Homo sapiens: one gene and its partner. The protein of the gene in region 1 purifies or fractionates together with the protein of each later gene. This does not show direct contact. Each region holds a gene or a part of one and is shown on either strand. Other genes may lie near its edges. The genes, in order: SRFBP1 and DDX10.

Region 1 (7,000 bases):
TTCCTCAAAAATTTTAAAATAAGTATAGTAAAAACTAGATAATATACATTCTTGATTTAATGGAAATATTTATATGCAGTGAAACATAAAACAAATTATTGGTTGTATTGCTATATTTAAACAATTTTCTTAACTAAAATATAATTAAGAATCCCAAAATTGTCCTAGACAACTATTTTAGAATCAAAAAGTACATGATCACAAGTACTTAAAACTATAATAAAATTAATATTTATCTGTACATCCATAATAAAAGTTACTATTTTAGTTTGCTAACAAGAATGATTTTTAACAAGGGTGATCTGGTTTAAATAGCTGATTTCCTATGTTTCCATTATTATTTTAAATATATATTGACATTTATGTTTAAGGAAACAACAGAGCTGAACCAGTGAAGCACATTTCATGATAAGCACTAAAGAGAAAATATGAGATCACTAAAATCCCCAAATTACTTCATAAGGGAAACAGTCTGAGGGATATTATTAAAAATCAATTTAAGTACATATTGGATTTGTGAAAGGCTTATATAAGCGTAAGTTGAATTTACTTTAAAAAAAAATACAAAAACAAACATTCTATAATTCTCCCCAAGAGACTTATTCAAATACGAGTTTAAGTAATAGCTGCAGAGCCTGGGGTGAGAAAGCTGGGCATGGTAGTGCATGCACCTGCAGTCCCAGCCCTTTGGGAGGCAGAGGTGGGAGGATCACTTGAGCCCAGGAGTTTGAGGCTGCAGTGAGCTGTGATTGCAATATTGTACTCTAGTCTGGGCAACAGAATGAGATCCTGTCTTAAAAAAAACATTTTTTTTTTTAGATGGAAAAGTTTGCAGAAAGAGGCACTAATCAATCATCAAACGTAATTTTTTTCCCCTGAAACACAGCAATATTAGATTGCTGTTCTTTTCGCCTTCTGCTTGCTTCCCATGAAGGATGAAGAGGCAGCTGCAATTGCTGTTTTGTATTTTCAAGTCTTCCTGATAGCTTCTTATTAAACTGATTCTTGATCTGAGGCTCATTCTGTGGAAAATCTAGGAAGAGAAAGCAAAAATAATAATAACTATATACTTAAAGAGCATATAGGAGAAGTAAATTTCATCTTTTTCAAACCAATGTTAAAAAAAGAAATTTTGTTTTCTTAAATGGAATATTTCACAATTTAAAACTGAAGTCTAACAGGGAATAGTTTGAAGTTGAAAATTTATATACAAGTAGTCAATTTTGACACACATGCTTTCTAACACTTATAAGTAGATGTTTATTGAGTGCCTCTTAATTTATGCTGTGCTGTCTTATTTATAACAACATAAAGAAAGGAATCACTCTGTTGTACTAGCATGGAAGGCAAAAAAGAAGGGCATCATGTATTTTCAAAGGAACATCATTAGCTTATGATATCTGTGTACATGAAGCAGATGTAGCCAGAAAATTCACATCTTAGCTAAGACACTCCACTGAGTCTGACAATACTGATAGTGCTTACTCATTTTTAAAGGCTATAAGTTGATTCCACTCCCGTCTGTTATTGAACCAAAAGTGGTTATTACAAGGCAAATAGTACTAAGTCTACTCAAGAATATAAGACAAAGTTCTTTTTTAGTTGTAACATTAATCTCCAGATATGAAGGTGGCAACTTGTATTCTAGTCCATATAGTATCTTAACATTTTACATGATTTTGAACCAAGTCTTATTTGGCGAAGATACACTAGTATGAAAAGATATGCATCAATGCACATTTTAGTTGCTTACAGAACTTAGGAGATGGAATCAGAAAGAAAAAGAGAGACAAAAAAACTTAATATAGACTTCTTAATCAGTCCTATGACTATGTAATTTCTCCATTGCAAGTTAGGAATCATTGTCAAAAGACTTCTTTTTTTTAAGACGGAGTCTTGCTCTGTTGCCCAGGATGGAGAGCAGTGGCGTGATCTTGGCTCACTGCAACCTCCACCTCCCAGGTTCAAGCAATTCTCCTGCCTCAGCCTCCTAAGTAGCTGGGATTACAGGCATGTGCCACTATGCCTGGCTAATTTATGTATTTTTAGTAGAGACATATTGGTCAGGCTGATCTCGAACTCCTGACCTCAGACGATCCACCCACCTCAGCCTCCCAAAGTGCTGGGATTACAGGCATGAGCCACCGTGCTCGGCCTGTCAGAAGCCTTTTAAAGACCTCTTTAAGAAAACAAATGTAAAAATGTTATATAAACCAGTGCACTGTTTGGGATAATATTTACAAAACATTATCTAGACAGAAATCAAAACAACCCTTATCTTACACAAATCACATGTGCTCTAGAAATCTGTTACAATATTCAAAGAGTGGCTGTAGAGATGAAAAGTTTAAAAAAAACTGTAGAGGATGTGGAGAAATAGGAACACTTTTACACTGTTGGTGGGACTGTAAACTAGTTCAACCATTGTGGAAGTCAGTGTGGCGATTCCTCAGGGATCTAGAACTAGAAATACCATTTGACCCAGCCATCCTATTATTGGGTATATACCCAAAGGATTATAAATCATGCTACTATAAAGACACATGCACACGTATGTTTATTGCGGCACTATTCACAATAGCAAAGACTTGGAACCAACCCAAATGTCCAACAATGATAGACTGGATTAAGAAAATGTGGCACATATACACCATGGAATACTATGCAGCCATAAAAACTGATGAGTTCATGTCCTTTGTAGGGACATGGATGAAACTGGAAACCATCATTCTCAGCAAACCATCGCAAGGACAAAAAACCAAACACCGCATGTCCTCACTCATAGGTGGGAATTGAACAATGAGAACACATGGACACAGGAAGGGGAACATCACACACCGGGGACTGTTGTGGGGTGGGGGGAGTGGGGAGGGATAGCATTAGGAGATATACCTAATGGTAAATGACGAGTTAATGGGTGCAGCACACCAACATGGCACATGTATACATATGTAACAAATCTGCACGTTGTGCACATGTACTCTAAAACTTAAAGTGTAATAATAATAAAAATAAAAAAAACAAAACAAAACAAAACAAAAACCTGTTTCATAAAAACTGAGATTTGAATAAGGTAGTATTTCTAAATGAATGTATTATTTTATATATTACATAGAGTTGTATATGTAAATAAACTAGTAAATATTTTAAGCATACAAGCTAAGCACAAAAAACCCTTTATTTGGATAGTCTCATTGTGAAAATGTAGGTATGTCTTATATTTACAGTTATCCTGTGTTTGTGAATATATGGTATAAATGGGGCATACTGACATGTTTCTGCCAAATCCTGTATTATCTTCCTTTTAGGCATACAATCAGAATATAGTTTCCATTCCTGCTGCAGTTAGGTGAGGTCACATGGCTAATTGAGTTATGGCCAATAAAATGTGAGTAAAAGGCCTGGACCATAAAAACCTCACATTCAATCTTCCATTACTTTTCTATCGCTGATGAATGAAGAGAACTCCTAGGATCCAGAGGAGGCAAGAGGCACAAGACAGAATAAAATTCCTAGAAGCAGACAGACTGATAGATGACAAACCACTGAGATTTAGCAGGTAGTCTACTATGAATAATACTAAAATTGGTACTCTGAAGTACCATTACAATAACATAAAAATTTGGCATTGGCTTAGCAGTTCAGTGGTGGGTAGCAAGGAAACAGATAACTGAGAATGAGAAGTAAGCAACCCATGTGCCAAAGAAATAGGTAAAACTGTTGTCAGTGATAACTTGGCAAGCAGGCCACAAGCCTATGGAGTTTGCTGTACAAAGGTAACTGGCTGGAAAGAATAAAAAGATCAGCGTATTACTGGCTGTCCTTGACAATGCACTACACAAAAGAGAACAGAGAGAACAAAAGAATCTAGATATTTGGGAACTTAAGGTTTAGAAAAGCCTTTGACTCCCAAACAGTAACCTGTAAGTCTAAGAAAAGTTGCCCACAGCAACTCAGCCCTAGAGCAGAGATAAGACTAAATGTATGGCACTCCCATCCAAATCTGATTAATTTTCAATGCAGTAGATGCTGAATGAGAGCGGGAAGTGGGAAAAATAAAACAAAACACAAACAAATAAGACAAGTTTGAGAACTAGCTCAAAGAAAGAATTTTCAGTACGGTAACTAGCCCACAGACGGACTGAAGGAAACAGAGGTCAGAAATCCACTGAGTTTTTGAGGAGGTGTATAGTGAAAGAAATCACAAGCCTGGGATGGAAAAAACCTCTGCTGAACTTTGTACAATCTTCATCATTTTATATTTGTACCAGTGACTTGGGGCAAACTCCAAAGAGATCATGTTAAATACCCACCTCAGATGTGGCCACGAAACAAAGACCCTCCCTAGACACGGACCATGAAGAACAATGGATAAAGAAGTTCCTCTCAGAGCCTTCATAATCTTTGCTCAGCAGAATTTCAGATAGTAGACCTGTTGTGTGCCTTCCATTTTTTCCTTAAGCTATCAAGAGTTTTTATTGTCATTACTTTGTCCCTGTTCTGCTACTCGATACATGGTATATCATGGTATGAATTTCTTTTTGGTACAAAGGTCACCAGACTTTGAAGAATCTCATCCATGAGATTTGATGGAAAATACTCCATGACCAGTGATCCTGGACTTTGAGCTAGATGCAGTGACTGGATGTGACTTTGGGTTGGCTGCCTTGGGAAGGAGGTAAGTGTGCTCTGTGTAGGAGGAAAAGTGAAATGGCCATCCAGTGATAGAAAGTCTGGTCACTGGAAGAAAAAGTTATGTGTTCACGAAATTCCACTTCCTCTTTTCTCCTAGATATATAGTAAGACTGCATTTCTTAGCTCCCCTGTGGCTAGATGGGGTCATGTGACTGAATTCTGGCTAATGATATGTGAGTAGAACTGGTTTCTGCTACTTTCAGGCCTTGCTCACAAACACCTGCAAAATTCTCCATGTACTCCATTCCCTTCTATTGGCAAATGGAGAATATTTGGAACCTGGAGGAGGAAAACGCCAAAAGATGGAAGAAGCCTGATCCTTGAATGACTATGTGGAACACAGCCTCTCTGCTAATTCATCACAGTGGACTGTGATGTGAATGAGAAATGAATTTTTGCTATGTTAAGTTAGTGAAAGTCTAGGATTGTGTGAGAAGTCACTCTACCCAAATACATGAAACTTAGATTTGTTACGAATTAATCTGAAAATATTCTGATTATACTCTTGCCCAAGAAAGTAATATACTTGTTATTCAATGTTTAACGGCATGGCATTAGCGTTTAGGATCACTAATAATTAAGATATAACTTGCATAATTTACTTAAAAAAAGTGTTGGTTTAATTTGAGATAAGTTAAATAGACATAATATTTCCTGATAAATTTTGTCTATATCTTTCCCTCTGGCAGGACACAGAAGAAAAGAAAACCAACAACAAAAAATTATATTGATAATTGTAAGATGCTCTGTTAACATTTCTGTGGGTACATAATTCATTCAGGCTATATTAAGCAACAACAATTTCTCATTCTTTTACTCTGGTAAAACATAGCTTAATTGCATATGAAGGTCAGGCAACTATGAATACATACCTAGGGATCTTGTTTTTGGAGCCTGTTCTTTGAAATTTCTAAAAGAAGAAAAACACCATTATGACTTTTTAAAGATAAATCCTCTGATCTTAAGAAAAAAACATAACAAAATTGATGATAAAACTAATTCAAAGGGCCACTATACTCCTTAGTCACACCAGCAAACAATAAAATAATTATGAAAGTCCCAGGTTGTAGCTGTATCAAACAAAGGTTTGTTAGAATCCAGTGTTACTACAGACACATGAGGACCTATTTCCCTCACCACCTTTAAAGAGAATTCTGTTTGTAATGGGAAATATCTTGTCTTGGTTACCTTGCCTTTACACTTCGGGATTATCTATATAAAGAATTTCTAAAGTCTTTTCACAGGAAGAATGACTCTCATATAACAAAAATTAAGATTTACATTTTGGCGGGGCACGGTGGGTCACGCCTGTAATCCCAGCACTTTGGGAGGCTGAGCAGGGTGGATCACAAGGTCAGGAGTTCGACACTAACCGGGCCAATATGGTGAAACCCGTCTCTACTAGAAAACAAAACAAAACAAAAAAAAAACAAAAATTAGCCGGGCGTGGTGGCATGCGCCTATAATCCCAGCTACTCAGGAGGCTGAGGCAGGAGAATTGCTTGAACCTGGGAGGCAGAGGTTACAGTGAGCCAAGATCACACCACTGCACTCCAGCCTGGGTGATAGAGTGAGACTCCGTCTCAAAAAAAAAAAAAAAAAAAAAAAAAAGATTTATATTTTGTGGTAAAGGGATAGTGGTGTGCCATTTTCAAATGTGGAAAAAAGTGCAGCTTTTTGAGGCAAGTTTGGAAAATATAAGTAAATATTTTAATTATTTCAACACTCCACACGTTTTTATGTCTTTGCCATACTGTGACATTTTTGAAAAATTTTTACATCACATTTTTCTATTTCATTAAAGACTATCCCTGACTTGTAAATATATGCAAAAACAGTTTATAGCTGTTACTGAAGAAATTAGCTAACCATAACCTTCACTCTAAAATGTGAAGATACCCTTTATCAAATTGGAATTACAAATAAAGTTAAACTTACTGTTTTATAACAGAACAGCTATGAAAAGTGGTGAGCAACAGAGATGGAGACAGCAACATCATCAAATAAAAAGCAGTATGGAGAAACTCAGTTTAAGGGCAAGCAGCCTTATATACTGAAATGGTACTAGACAGTAAAATGACTGATGTTTACAATAATGGTCCTGGATCATCAAGAAAAAACACCATATTCTTTTCAGAAAGTTCTGTTTAGAAAGATACATGAAACATTTTCAAAAGTTTTTCATCAAAAAAGATTTCAAAGTTTCAAAACTTTGATAAGTGAAGGAATAAAATTTAAATTAGCTGGCATATTATTTGGCTATAACATCTCATTTTCTGATGAAACTAGGCAAATGTGGCATTGC
Region 2 (12,517 bases), on another chromosome or scaffold:
GGTTAACTGACTTTAGGAAGATAGATGTGCTGTGCAATGTTTTGTTTGAGGAGCTCGCTTTGCCTGTACTGTGTCTCTTGCTGGGGATTGAAGAGTGTGTTGGCAGCCTGCCTCCTTCTGTAGGCATTCCATTCCCTTTGAAAACAGCTTTTTAGCTGATAATACCACGAGTGCTAGAGTGAGCTACACCTAATTTTAATGCCTTGTTTGGAAGATTATCTTCTAATTGAGGTTCCTTGCTGGGACAGTATGTTATTTGAATAAACCGTTCTTCTAATGCTGGTACACTGATTCTGCCTCCTTTCCAGTGATATCTGAAATGATTTGTAGGGATTAAGACAATGTTTTAATATTTGTATTTTCAGCATTGGAGGGCACAGAGTAAACACTGCCTGGGCAATGTTAAGAATCATAGGAAAGATGTGTAGATTGTAAAATGAAGTACAACTGTCATCCTTTTACTGCCTAGAGTGTAATTTAAATAAATGAACCATACAAATGCAGCTTTTTCCTTTTGCGAATCATGTATAATTTGGCAGCATATTTCCAGAACTGAGCAGTAGTTCCTGCCTTCAGCATCTGTAATAAAATAATTCTCCTGAGCAGCTGAAATGAAATTCAGAAAATTGGGTTTGTGCTAATAAAGAACATCAGTAATGAATATTTGAATAATGTAAAGTTAGCAAAATGTTACTTATTGTGGCTTCAAAGCATGACAGACATTTCCCCTGTGTTGAAATAATACTCCTCCTTCAGTAACCCCAAAATGAATAGTTATCAGGTTGGATTTCATAGGCCACTGATTTATGGTTAAAACTTTGAAAGGATTGTGCTAACAAGAAATATTTCTCCAACTAATTTCACTCTTTTTTCCAAATTGTGTGTATAGAACTATTTTCATTGTGATCTGTGGTTTGTGGTAATTTTGTCCTTGTTTCTTAAATTGAGATCCCTTGAAGGATGATAGGAAGTAAATTTTCTTCCTAAAATTGATGTGGTTGGTGATGCTTTACTGTGTTCAACATTTTGGAGGTCAGATAGTAGTATGTGTGGTGTGTGTGTATTGGGTGACTTTTTTTTCCTTACCAATTGAAATGCTTACAAATGTATATTCGATTCAGGGACAGCCTCTTCAGGGCATATTTCGTTACAGAAGGAATGATGGCTTTTAATTAGAAGCGATGATTGAATTCAACCCTGAATTACCAAGGATGAGCTGGGCAATACAATGTAGAGAAGAAATGGCTGTGTCGTGAAACAAATGAGTTACCCTGATTCCTTTTTCTTTTTTTCCAGATAAATGTAAATGAAATCACAAGATTTTCAGATTTTCCCTTGTCCAAAAAAACATTGAAAGGTAAGTATATGGTGATCTTGGGATGTGTTATTGGATTTCTTGGCATTTTTGATAAATGGGAGAAGATTTAGAGGGTTTAGCCTGAAAAATCTTATTTTGGCAAATTTTGATATCATGAAAACCAATGAAAATAAGCAATATTCAAGTTTTAACAGTACGTTATTCTCATTCTTTCTGGACTAATTAAAAGAAAAACAAGTTTCCAGCATCCTCTGAATAAAATGAAATCTAATTTTGTTAGTTAAAATAAGCAAGGGAACAAACCAAGATGCAACACCCTTTGTATCTGTTTGCTAGGGCTGAGATGACAAAATATCAGACTGAGTGGCTTAAACAACAGAGACTGATTTTCTCACAGTTCTGGAAGTTGGAAGTCTGGGATCAAGATGTTGGTGGCATTGGTTTCCTCTTAAGGCAAAATAAGGGAAGGATTTGTTCCAGGCCTCCTTGGCTTGTGGATGGCTGCCCTCTTGCTGCCTTTTTATTTTTGGATACATAAAAATTGTATATATTTGGCCAGGTGTGGTGGCTCATGCCTGTAATCCCAGTACTTTGGGAGGCCGAGGTGGGTGGATCACAGGGTCAGGAGTTTGAGACCAGCCTGGCCAACATGGTGAAACCCCGTCTCTACTAAAAATACAAAAATTAGCTGGGTGTGGTGGCGGGCACCTGTAATCCCAGCTACAGGCTGAGGCAGGGGAATCACTTGAACCTGGGAGGCGGGTTCATGCCACTCTACTCCAGCCTGGGCAACAGAGTGAGACACCGTCTCAAAAAAAAAAATTGTATATATTTACAGTGTATACATGATGCTTTGAAATATGTATATGCTGTGGAATGGCTAAATCAAACTAATTGTATATGTGCTAATATTACCTCATCCTTTTGTGTTTAGAACTCTTAAAATCTACTTAGTATTTTTTCTTTTTTCAGTATATTTTAATTAACTATAGCAGTATATATTAAGAGAGATATATAATAGATCTCTCTTTTTTTTTTTTAAGATAGGGTCTTGCTCCGTCACCCAGGGTGCAGTGCAGTTGTGTGATCTTAGCTCACTGCATCCTCAGCCTTCTGGGCTCAAGTGATCCTCCCATCTCAGCCTCCTGAGTAGTTGGAACTGCAGGTGCATGCCACTGTGCCTGGCTAATTTTTAAAAATTTTTGGTAGAGATAGAGTTTTGCCATGTTGCCCAGGCTAGTCTTGAGCTCCTGAACTTTAAGGAATCTGCCTGCCTTGGCCTCCCAAAGTGCTGGGATTATAGGCGTGAGCCACCACGCCTGGCCTACAATAGATCTCTTGAAGTTCTTCCTTCTAACTGAAATTTTGTATGTTTGATGAACATCTTCCCACTCTCCTTACTTCCCCCAGCTTCTGGTAACTACCATTCTACCCTCTGCTCCTTTGAATTTGGCTTTTTTAGATTCTACATATAAGTGAGATTATGTGGCATCTTTATTGCTGTGCCTGGTTTATTTCAGTTAACATAAGGTCCTCCAGGTTCATCCATGTTGTTGTAAATAACAGGATTTCCTTTTTAAAGGCTGAGTCATATTCCATTTGTGTGTGTGTGTGTGTGTGTGTGTGTGTGTGTGTGTATGTGTATGTATATAACATATATTTTCTTTACTCATTCATGGACACTTAGGTTGATTTCATATCTTGGCTTCTGTGAATAATGCTGCAATGAACATGTGAGCACAAATACTTTTCAAAGTAGTGGTTTTATTAATAAACCCTTTGGATTATACCCAGGAGTGGAGTAGGTGGATCACAGAATAACTTGTCTCTCTTCACATGGTTTTCCCTCTGTGCATGTGGACCCTTGGTGTCTCTTTGTTCAAGTTTCTTCTCATAAAGACACCGTTTGTGTTGGATCAGAGTCCACCCCTATGGGGCTCTAACTTAATCAACCTCTTTAAAGGCCCTGTCTCCAAGTATAGTTATGTTCTGAGGTACGAGGCATTAGGGCTTCAACATAGGAATTTTGGGGGACACAACTCACTTAGCCTATAATACCATCCTACAGGGATCTTCTAAAGTATAATTCTTCCCTCCATGTTGCCAGGTTTGCAAGAAGCTCAGTACCGTTTGGTGACTGAGATACAGAAGCAGACCATTGGATTGGCTTTGCAAGGTAAAGATGTACTTGGAGCGGCCAAAACTGGATCTGGCAAGACTCTGGCTTTTCTTGTTCCAGTAAGTACATTGTCATTGGGTCAGACTGTCTGTTATACAATTTTATAACATTCTGTGCCCAGATGCAGATTATATAAAGAGATGTTTTCATGTTAGATTTCATGATAGATTGGCTAGAATGCGAGCTTCATCAAACAGGAGCCACATGTGTGTCTTGTTCTCACCATTTTCCCCAGGTTCTAGCACAGTGCCTTGCATGTGGCAGGCACTCAATAACTTACTGAATGAATGAACTATTGTGCCTTGACAAGTCATTACATTCTTGATGGAAGTGGAGTGCTCCAGTATGGCAGGTTAAAGTGGTTCTGTGCTGCAGTAGGACTGGTGGGAGACAGTTTCTGCTCTCACCCTTGTGAGCCTGCCAGTGGCATTTATACTTGCCACCTTGTTTAGGATAAAGCTGAAATATGCTCAGTTTAAGGAGCTTTAGGCATTTGTTGAGAATTTTCTGGGACATTGCTATCGGTCTTTTATGGCAGCAAAACAGTAGAGCTTCTTAGGCTTTCACTTCCATCTCTGTTACGTTGGTCTCCTAATTTTTCATTCCTATAAAATGACCCAGAAAAATCTCATTTTAGTTTTTGTTCCAAATATTGCAAAAACCACTTTTCTCTTAAATCCTAGTGTGTTTTTGCCCCCTTAAAAAAAAAGGCTCCCTATAGCTAGATAATTCAGTTACTATATAACTACAGCAGCTACATGGGTGAAAGTTTATTTACTTATTTTTATTTTTTTTTGAGATGAAGTCATGCTGTGTTGCCCAGGCTGGAGTGCAGTGGTGCAATCTTGGCTCACTGCAACCTCTGCCTCCCAGGTTCAAGCGATTCTTTCTGCCTCAGCCTCCCAAGTAGCTGAGATTACAGATGTGGGCTACCACGCCAAGCTGATTTTTGTATTTTTGGTAAATACGGGGTTTCATCATATTGGTCAGGCTGGTCTTGAACTCCTGACCTCAAGTGATGCACCCGCCTCCTCCTCCAAAGTTCTGGGATCAGGCGTGAGCCACTGCGCCCAGCCAAAAGTTTTAGTGTGGTTATTTAGAAAATGATAAATATTATTCTTAAGTGTGTTGTAAAGGTCTTTGGGTTGTACATACCTTTCACTGATAGCCAGTTTCCTGATGGCATGGCTCTGGCAGCAGCTGAACTACCGTGGGGTTTCTTTTCCCTTTCCTCTGAGTTGGGGGTGGATGGTTCTGATGGAAGATAAACAAAATCATTTACTTTGGACTGGATAAAACTTGAGTGGTATGCCTTCTGCTTGGAAGATCCCTTTGATTTGGAGGGGCAAGGTTGAGATGCAGGTCAAAAAGCTGACTTCTGATGACTTACTGAACATGAATTTGCTGTCTTTTTGAGGTGCTGGAAGCCTTATATCGTCTGCAATGGACTTCAACAGATGGGCTGGGGGTTCTCATAATATCACCTACGAGAGAACTGGCCTATCAGACCTTTGAGGTTCTCCGAAAAGTAGGAAAGAATCATGACTTCTCAGCTGGTCTCATCATTGGTGGAAAGGTTTGTCCTTTTGTCTATGTCCTTCCTTTCCTTCTGTAACCTATACTGGAGTACTGTGGCCGATGACAGGGAGGCAGCAGAGACTTCATCTAAACAGACTGACCTAGACCAGGGCCTCATGGGATAGTAGCACTTGGTGTGGTCGCTGCTATCTACGATCTGGTTGCCAATTTTGCAGGCCCAGAAAGTCCATTTTTTTTTGTCGGGGAATCTGAATTGATTAGCCTCTCTAAGACATATTTACTCTAATCCTGTAAAGTTATTTGTTGATATTCATTGGGAAAGATATTTCCATATATGAACTAGTACCTTTTAATAAGGTATCTATCTAAGAGGCTGAATAATTCAGAGGATTGCTACATCAGCAGCGTAAGAAAGGAAGGTAGACTCTTTAGAGGAATGTTTATAGTAGGTCAAGATAAGACCTGCTGCTCACTTTTGTTCTATCTTATAGCACATCTAGAATGCCTCTATCTGCTAGAATCTCCACTAGACTGTGAGGATAAATACTTCAATTTTTATGCAAACATGCACAAAAGAAGAAAGAATAGCATCACAAACCCTTACGTACCTGTTGCCTAACTTTAACAATTAACAACATTCTGTTTTTTCCCACCGCCTCCAGGACTGTGAGAAGTGGTTCTTGTATCAAGGAGAGAACCTCGGCTTTTTTCAGTTCACAAAGTACAGTCCTTGAGCGGTGTCAGAGTCTGTTCAATGTCCCTGGGTCCTGAATTAAAGAATGAGAGTGATTCCAGTTTATGTCAGTTCTGATCCAAATAGGAAATCCTGACTTGGAGTATTCATTTGATTATTTTTTTTTCTTAGCCTCAAAATCCTGGGTATGAATAAGAATTTAGAACTCTGAGCTCCTTATGTCTTCCTGTAAAGACTTTTATTTAGCCCAGAAATGTGGATATGGTTCAGAAATACAAGGGAAAAGTTATGTTTATTTCCAAGAGTATCTAAAATGTTGTGATGAAATGCCCATGCAGATGGCTTTTATAGCTTTGGTACACAGGCTGCTGAGAGTGATGTGTCTGTGTAATCAAAATAAATAACTGTTTTCAGGATCTAAAACACGAAGCTGAGAGGATCAACAACATAAATATACTCGTGTGCACACCAGGTCGGCTTCTTCAACACATGGATGAAACAGTATCTTTTCATGCTACCGACCTCCAAATGTTAGGTGAGTCAAATCAATTTCTAATTTAAAAAAAAAAAAAGCTCAGACTTAGGAGAGAGCCCTTATACATTTTTATGATAGAAATTTTATGTTAGATAAATGTTATGATTCAAAACAAACTTAAAAATTACTGAAACATTTTGGCATTTGGGCTCTAAACCCAGAAAGTAAAAGTAGACTTAAAAAAATCAGAAGAATGTATGTACGCTTATATGTGAAATTAGGCACGTTAGTATTAGACCATGCCAAGGTTTTTAACACCTGCTTCTAATAACTTGAAAGGTCAAATTGGCATTTTTTTAAATGAACTTTTTCTTTTTTGCTTGGGAATACTACCTGATGTGTATTTTTAAATCAACTTTATCTTTGAACATTTTTGATTTGTAGGAAAGTTGCAGTGGAGAGTTCCTGCATTATCCTTCAGCTGGTTTCCCCTAATTTTTTTTTTTTTTTTTTTTTTTTTTATACAGAGTTTCGCTCTGTTGCTAGGCTGGAGTACGGTGGCATGATCTCGGCTCATGGGTTCAAGTGATTCTCCTGCCTCAGCCTCCCGATAGCTGGGACTACAGGTGTGCACCACCACGCCCAGCTAATTTTTGTATTTTTAGTAGAGGCGGGGTTTCACAATGTTGGCCAGGATGGTCTTGACCTCTTGACCTTGTGATCTGCCCACCTTGGCCTCCCAAAGTGCTGGGATTACAGGCCTGAGCCACTGTGCCCAGCCTTCCCCTGGTGTTAATGTCTTACATGACATGGTACTTTTATCAAAACTAAGGTTAACATTGCTACATCATATAAATTCCAGACTTTATTCAGGTTTTACCAGTTTTTCCGCTAATGTTCTTTTTCTGTTTTAGGATCCAATCCAGGATACCCATTGCATTTAGCCTAATGTATATTTTACATATGATAGTTCAACTTGCATTTTCCTTTTTCAGTTCTTGATGAAGCAGATAGAATCTTGGATATGGGCTTTGCTGATACCATGAATGCTGTTATTGAAAATCTCCCCAAGAAACGTCAGACTTTACTTTTCTCAGCAACACAAACTAAATCTGTAAAGGACCTTGCACGCTTGAGTTTGAAAAACCCTGAGTATGTCTGGGTTCATGAAAAAGCAAAATATAGGTATGTACTCTTTGAGTCAATCAAGATAAATGTTTTTTACTTTTTTAGTTTAGGGATTTGGTATTTTAAATATCTGTTTTCTGGGAATTAAGACATTCTATGAGTTATTGGTTATGCAAAGCATAGTAAATATACCAGTTAAAATTACCCAAATTCTGCATATATCTTTAAATGTCAGGGTACTTGAATGTAGCATTTCCCAAAATGTGGTCTGGGAGGGGAACAAATGTTTTTCCATAGATGTTAAGAGGTATTTTACCATTTGCCAACACTACCTCTTAATAAACGAAGGGAGAAGGGATGAAATAGCAAATGGTGAGTCAAAGTGAAACAGTTTTATTTCTATTTCTCACAACCTTTAATATTTTCAGGGACATTGTGATTGTTGAAAGCAGTGGGAGGGAGGTGGATGTAGCTTGCTACATTTACCAAATTTTTTGGGTACGGAATCATCCTTTTTAGCAGGATTATGCAGTACTAATGTGTTATGGAACACATTTTATGAAGTGCATTAATATTTAGCAAAATACCTTTCAGTCTAAAATTCTAGCAACTATTGTTTTGTCTTGGTCTCATTAAAAACTAGAGCTTAAAGTATATGTGTTACAGTAAAAGTATGTATGTTTGTGATATGCAAGTAGTTGGGGAAATTTTTATTTATCTCTTTTTTTCGAGACAGGGTCTTGCTCTGTCACCCAGGCTGGAGTGCAGTTGTGTGAATATAGCTCACTACAGCCTTCAACTTCTGGGCTCAAACAATCCTCCTGCTTCAGCTTCCTGAGTAGCTGGGACAACCAGGGCATACCACCATGCGTGGCTAATTTTAAAATTTTTTGTAGAGTTGAAGACTTACTACATTGCCCAGGCTGGTTTCAAATTCCTGAGATCAAGCAATCCTCCCACTTTGGCCTCCCAAAGTGTTGAGATTACACTCAGGCATGAGCCACTGTGCCCAGCTGGGATATGTTTTAAGTTGTATTTTCATATGACAATTAGAAGCATATATATTTGGTATGAATCACTGCAGACTTCCAGGAGAAATGTTTTCCAGTAAATATAAAGTTGGATTTTTTGTTGAAGATAGCAATGTAAATTCAACTCTTCTATTATTTATATCTTAAAATTTTTATTTCTTCTTGCTCTGAAATGTTAGCCTAAAAAGAAATAGATTTGGAAAATGAATTGTGTTATCTGGAAATTCCTTAAATAGAGAAAATATGAGTATTCAGGCCCATCTTGACCTTGTATAATGTATGTCTAGGATTTAAAAAGCCTGAGACGAAGAGGCCAGATTCTTTGCTTCTGGGTGATCTTGGGGAATCTGAGTACTGGTATCTTTGACTTTCAAGAACTTGGGAATGGAATAGTAAGATATGTGAGGTATAGTTTTTTTCCCTTGGCTTACTTTCGAGTGGACATTGATCTCTTAAAGAGTTGAGATAGCTATGAAAATTTTTGTGACAATTAACAATTAACTTGAAAATGTAAAGACTGCTTGTCTAGGATTTTTCACTTTTCTCTTTTTTCTGTTTGCCTCCAGCCTATTTTTAATATTCATCAGACAGATTTTTTTAATCATTAGATGTCTCTAAGACCTTTCATAATTTATGCAAGTTAATTTGTACGTATTATTTCCTATCCCCAATTTCTGTAGGTAAGAGTTGGTTATTTTCTGTAAATTACAAAGTTTTAGAAAAAAACTACAAAGACTTTGATATTATTTCACAAATGATTTTTGAAACCCGGTCCCATCACTTATAAAAGTGTGGTGGACAAAATTTTCAGAAAAAAATTTTGGAAGGTAGACATGTATTGACATAATTTACAAAACCTCAGGTTATATGATAATGGCTGCAGTATTCTAATATTCCAAATTTATAGGAAACATAAAAAAGCAGATGCTCTTAGGAATTTCATCTAATGTCAATGTTAGCTTTTCCACTTTAGTAGCTTATCAATGTGGTTCATACACCAGGAGAGATAATAATCAAGAATATTTTAAGGTGTTAGAGAGTATCTACTCTCAAATTGTGAAGGACACAACAACTAAAGAAAAATTAGATCTTTCTGAAGTTGTAAGTCAGAGCATACTTAGAAAAAGTATACTAGTGTTTTCATTATGTGGTTATATATAGACAACTGGTATTTCTAATGATTTTATTTTTGAGAGAATATGCCTTTGGGCCATAGCAATTTGCTGTTTTTCAGTGACAAGTTGAATTCTATGGTGGATTATGAAAAATTTCAAATTTGAGATATGTCATGAGCTTATGTTATTAGGTATATACAAATTTAGAATTGCATTGTCAATTTGAAACATTAATCATTATGAAATGCTTCTTTTTTGCATGTATGTGCTTATTTTCTGTGGACAGTCTGTCTTTTTTGGTTTGGTTTTTTTGCCTTTTTCTTATTGGCTCGGAGGAGCCCTTTAGATAAATTAATTATTTATTTGTAATACGAGTAGCAAAACACTTCCCTACTCCCGGTGTTTTTTCATTTTATAAAATGTTTCTTTTCATCTTTACTAATTCTTTTTTGCCTTAAAGTCTAGTGTTTTTTGAGATGGAGTCTTGCTCTGTCGCCCAGGCTGGAGTGCAGTGGCATGATCTCGGGTCACTGCAGCCTCTGCCTCCCGGGTTCAAGCAATTTTACTGCCTCAGCTTCCCGAGCAGCTGGGATTACAGGTGCCCACCACCATGCCCACCTAATTTTTGTATTTTGAGTAAAGACGGGGTTTCACCATGTTGGCCAGGCTAGTCTCGAACTCCTAACCTCAGGTGATCCACCCGCCTCGGCCTCCCACAGTGCTGGGATTACAGGCCTGAGCCATTGTGCCTGGCCAACTTTAAGTCTAGTTTGATATTAGTCTACCTATAGCAACTTTCTTTGAGTTAGCATTTGCATGGTGAATCCTTTCCCATCCTTGTACTTTCTACATTGTTTACACCCTATGTTTTTAGATTTGTCTTTGTGAGTAGCATATTTTTAATCTGGTATGATAATTGCTTTTGACAGTTAATTTAATTATTATTTGGGTCCCTTTACTTCTTCCTACCTTTGTGTCTTCATTGTTAAGTATTTTAATTCCACGTGTATCTTAAGCCCCATAAGCCACTGTTATCACTGTTTGCAACATCAGTATTTATTTAGACTTACCCAGTTCTTCTTCTTGTATTGTCACCCTTCCACCTGAGAATTTTTCTTTTGCTCAGATAATTTCCTTTTTAGTGCAGACTTGTTAGTGAAACAGCGTTTTGACCTTTCTGAAAACCTCTTTATTTCATCTTCATTTTTTTTTGAAGCCTATCTTGGCAGTTTTTTTTTCCTCTTCAAAGACATCTTTGTTGTACTCTAAGTTCCATTATTTCTGTCAAAGTCATCTGACAGTTCTCTTGTTCCTTTGAAGGTAATTTTTTCTTTATTTCTGGCCAGCAAATGCCTTAAGGTCAGGTTGTCTTGATCTGGTCTAGCCTGGCAATTAGACTCTGGGGTTATCCTATTTCTGGTTTGTCCTGAGACTTGGGGTATAATCTTCACAGATGGGGCATAGCCTTTCTCAGGGTCTCAACCAAAAGACTGAGGTATCTACCAGGGCCCCTCTGTCTTGGCAAGTTGTGAACCTCGTAGCATTGTGACCCTGCCAGAATCTCTGCTCAGTTCTGTAGCTTCCCAGTTGGTTGGTTTTTGCTTGTTTTTCCTCATTTTGACTTATGTGTGCTCTGTTTAGGGGTTGGCATGTTCCTCAAGGGTAAATTGTATGAAAAATTTTAGATTCAGTTTTCCTTCTCTCTGGGACTTGCGACTGATGTGTTTAGGCTTAAGGCTGCTACCTTGTTTCTCCCCTGTCTTGCAATCAGCAAATGCTTTTGGGGAGAAAAGTGAGGTTGTTAACAGAGGGCTTGGCTCAGGGCATTTCTGTTTTTTCCTTTAGCACCTCAAGTCCTACCTGCCTTGGTAGCTCTCAGATGCTGCCAGTCTTTTTGTTTTGTTTTGTATTTATTCCTGCTTTTGTAGTTGCTATTCTAGGCCAGAGGGTTAATCTGATACAAGCAGCTTCTTAGCCCTGCAATTTTAGCAGCTGATAGAAATTATTGCCTAGCTCCATTATTTCATCAGGGTTTGCAAAATTGTGATATTTTAATTCTATTATTTCTTCATTAGTTTAAATACTTTCATATCAAAGAGCTTTCACATGAACTATGTGATTCTGAGGTACAGTTCTTACAGGAAAGCCAGAATATTAGAATGTATGCTGTAACACCAATGAGTTGGTTCCCTAGTATTTTCTGAAGGTTAGCAGTATTTGTTTTTGGTGGGGGGTGGAGGTTGTGTGTACTAAAAATGAACTCAGATTTAATGATAATTAATGATGAATTAATGATACTTAACTCATAGATTAAACATCTTTTTATGTCCTTGAATCAATAGAAATTTTTATATTTAATATTCATCTTGTGTCATCCCAAACTTCGCTAGTAGATGCTTCAAGTTATTATCTTGATTCTTCAGATGCATTTTAGTAATCTTTGGACTCCTTGCTTTCTGGTGTTCTAAGTTTATCTTATCTATTTCCAGTTCTTTTTTTTTTTTTTTTTTTAAGGTTATAGATTTTCTTTTTTTTTTTTTTAATTTTTTTTTTTATTATACTCTTAAGTTTTAGGGTACATGTGCACATTGTGCAGGTTAGTTACATATGTATACATGTGCCATGCTGGTGCGCTGCACCCACTAACTTGTCATCTTGTCATCTAGCATTAGGTATATCTCCCAATGCTATCCCTCCCCCCTCCCCCGACCCCACCACAGTCCCCAGAGTATGATATTCCCCTTCCTGTGTCCATGTGATCTCATTGTTCAATTCCCACCTATGAGTGAGAATATGCAGTGTTTGGTTTTTTGTTCTTGCGATAGTTTACTGAGAATGATGGTTTCCAATTTCATCCATGTCCCTACAAAGGACATGAACTCATCAGTTTTTATGGCTGCATAGTATTCCATGGTGTATATGTGCCACATTTTCTTAATCCAGTCTATCATTGTTGGACATTTGGGTTGGTTCCAAGTCTTTGCTATTGTGAATAATGCCGCAATAAACATACGTGTGCATGTGTCTTTATAGCAGCA

Evidence for each region.
Region 2: the proteins of SRFBP1 (region 1) and DDX10 purify together in Homo sapiens (affinity purification with mass spectrometry; 4 studies listed by BioGRID and IntAct, with this or other methods). This does not show direct contact.

The regions. Positions count from the first base shown.
Region 1 is NC_000005.10:122,020,975-122,027,974, reverse strand, and holds part of SRFBP1 (serum response factor-binding protein 1), read right to left. Parts: intron 5,606-7,000; coding exon 5,568-5,605; intron 1,034-5,567; coding exon 849-1,033; 3' UTR 1-848. UniProt on the Homo sapiens protein: May be involved in regulating transcriptional activation of cardiac genes during the aging process. May play a role in biosynthesis and/or processing of SLC2A4 in adipose cells.
Region 2 is NC_000011.10:108,672,171-108,684,687, forward strand, and holds part of DDX10 (probable ATP-dependent RNA helicase DDX10), read left to right. Parts: intron 1-1,296; coding exon 1,297-1,357; intron 1,358-3,425; coding exon 3,426-3,556; intron 3,557-4,914; coding exon 4,915-5,073; intron 5,074-6,144; coding exon 6,145-6,265; intron 6,266-7,200; coding exon 7,201-7,390; intron 7,391-12,517. UniProt on the Homo sapiens protein: Putative ATP-dependent RNA helicase that plays various role in innate immunity or inflammation. Plays a role in the enhancement of AIM2-induced inflammasome activation by interacting with AIM2 and stabilizing its protein level.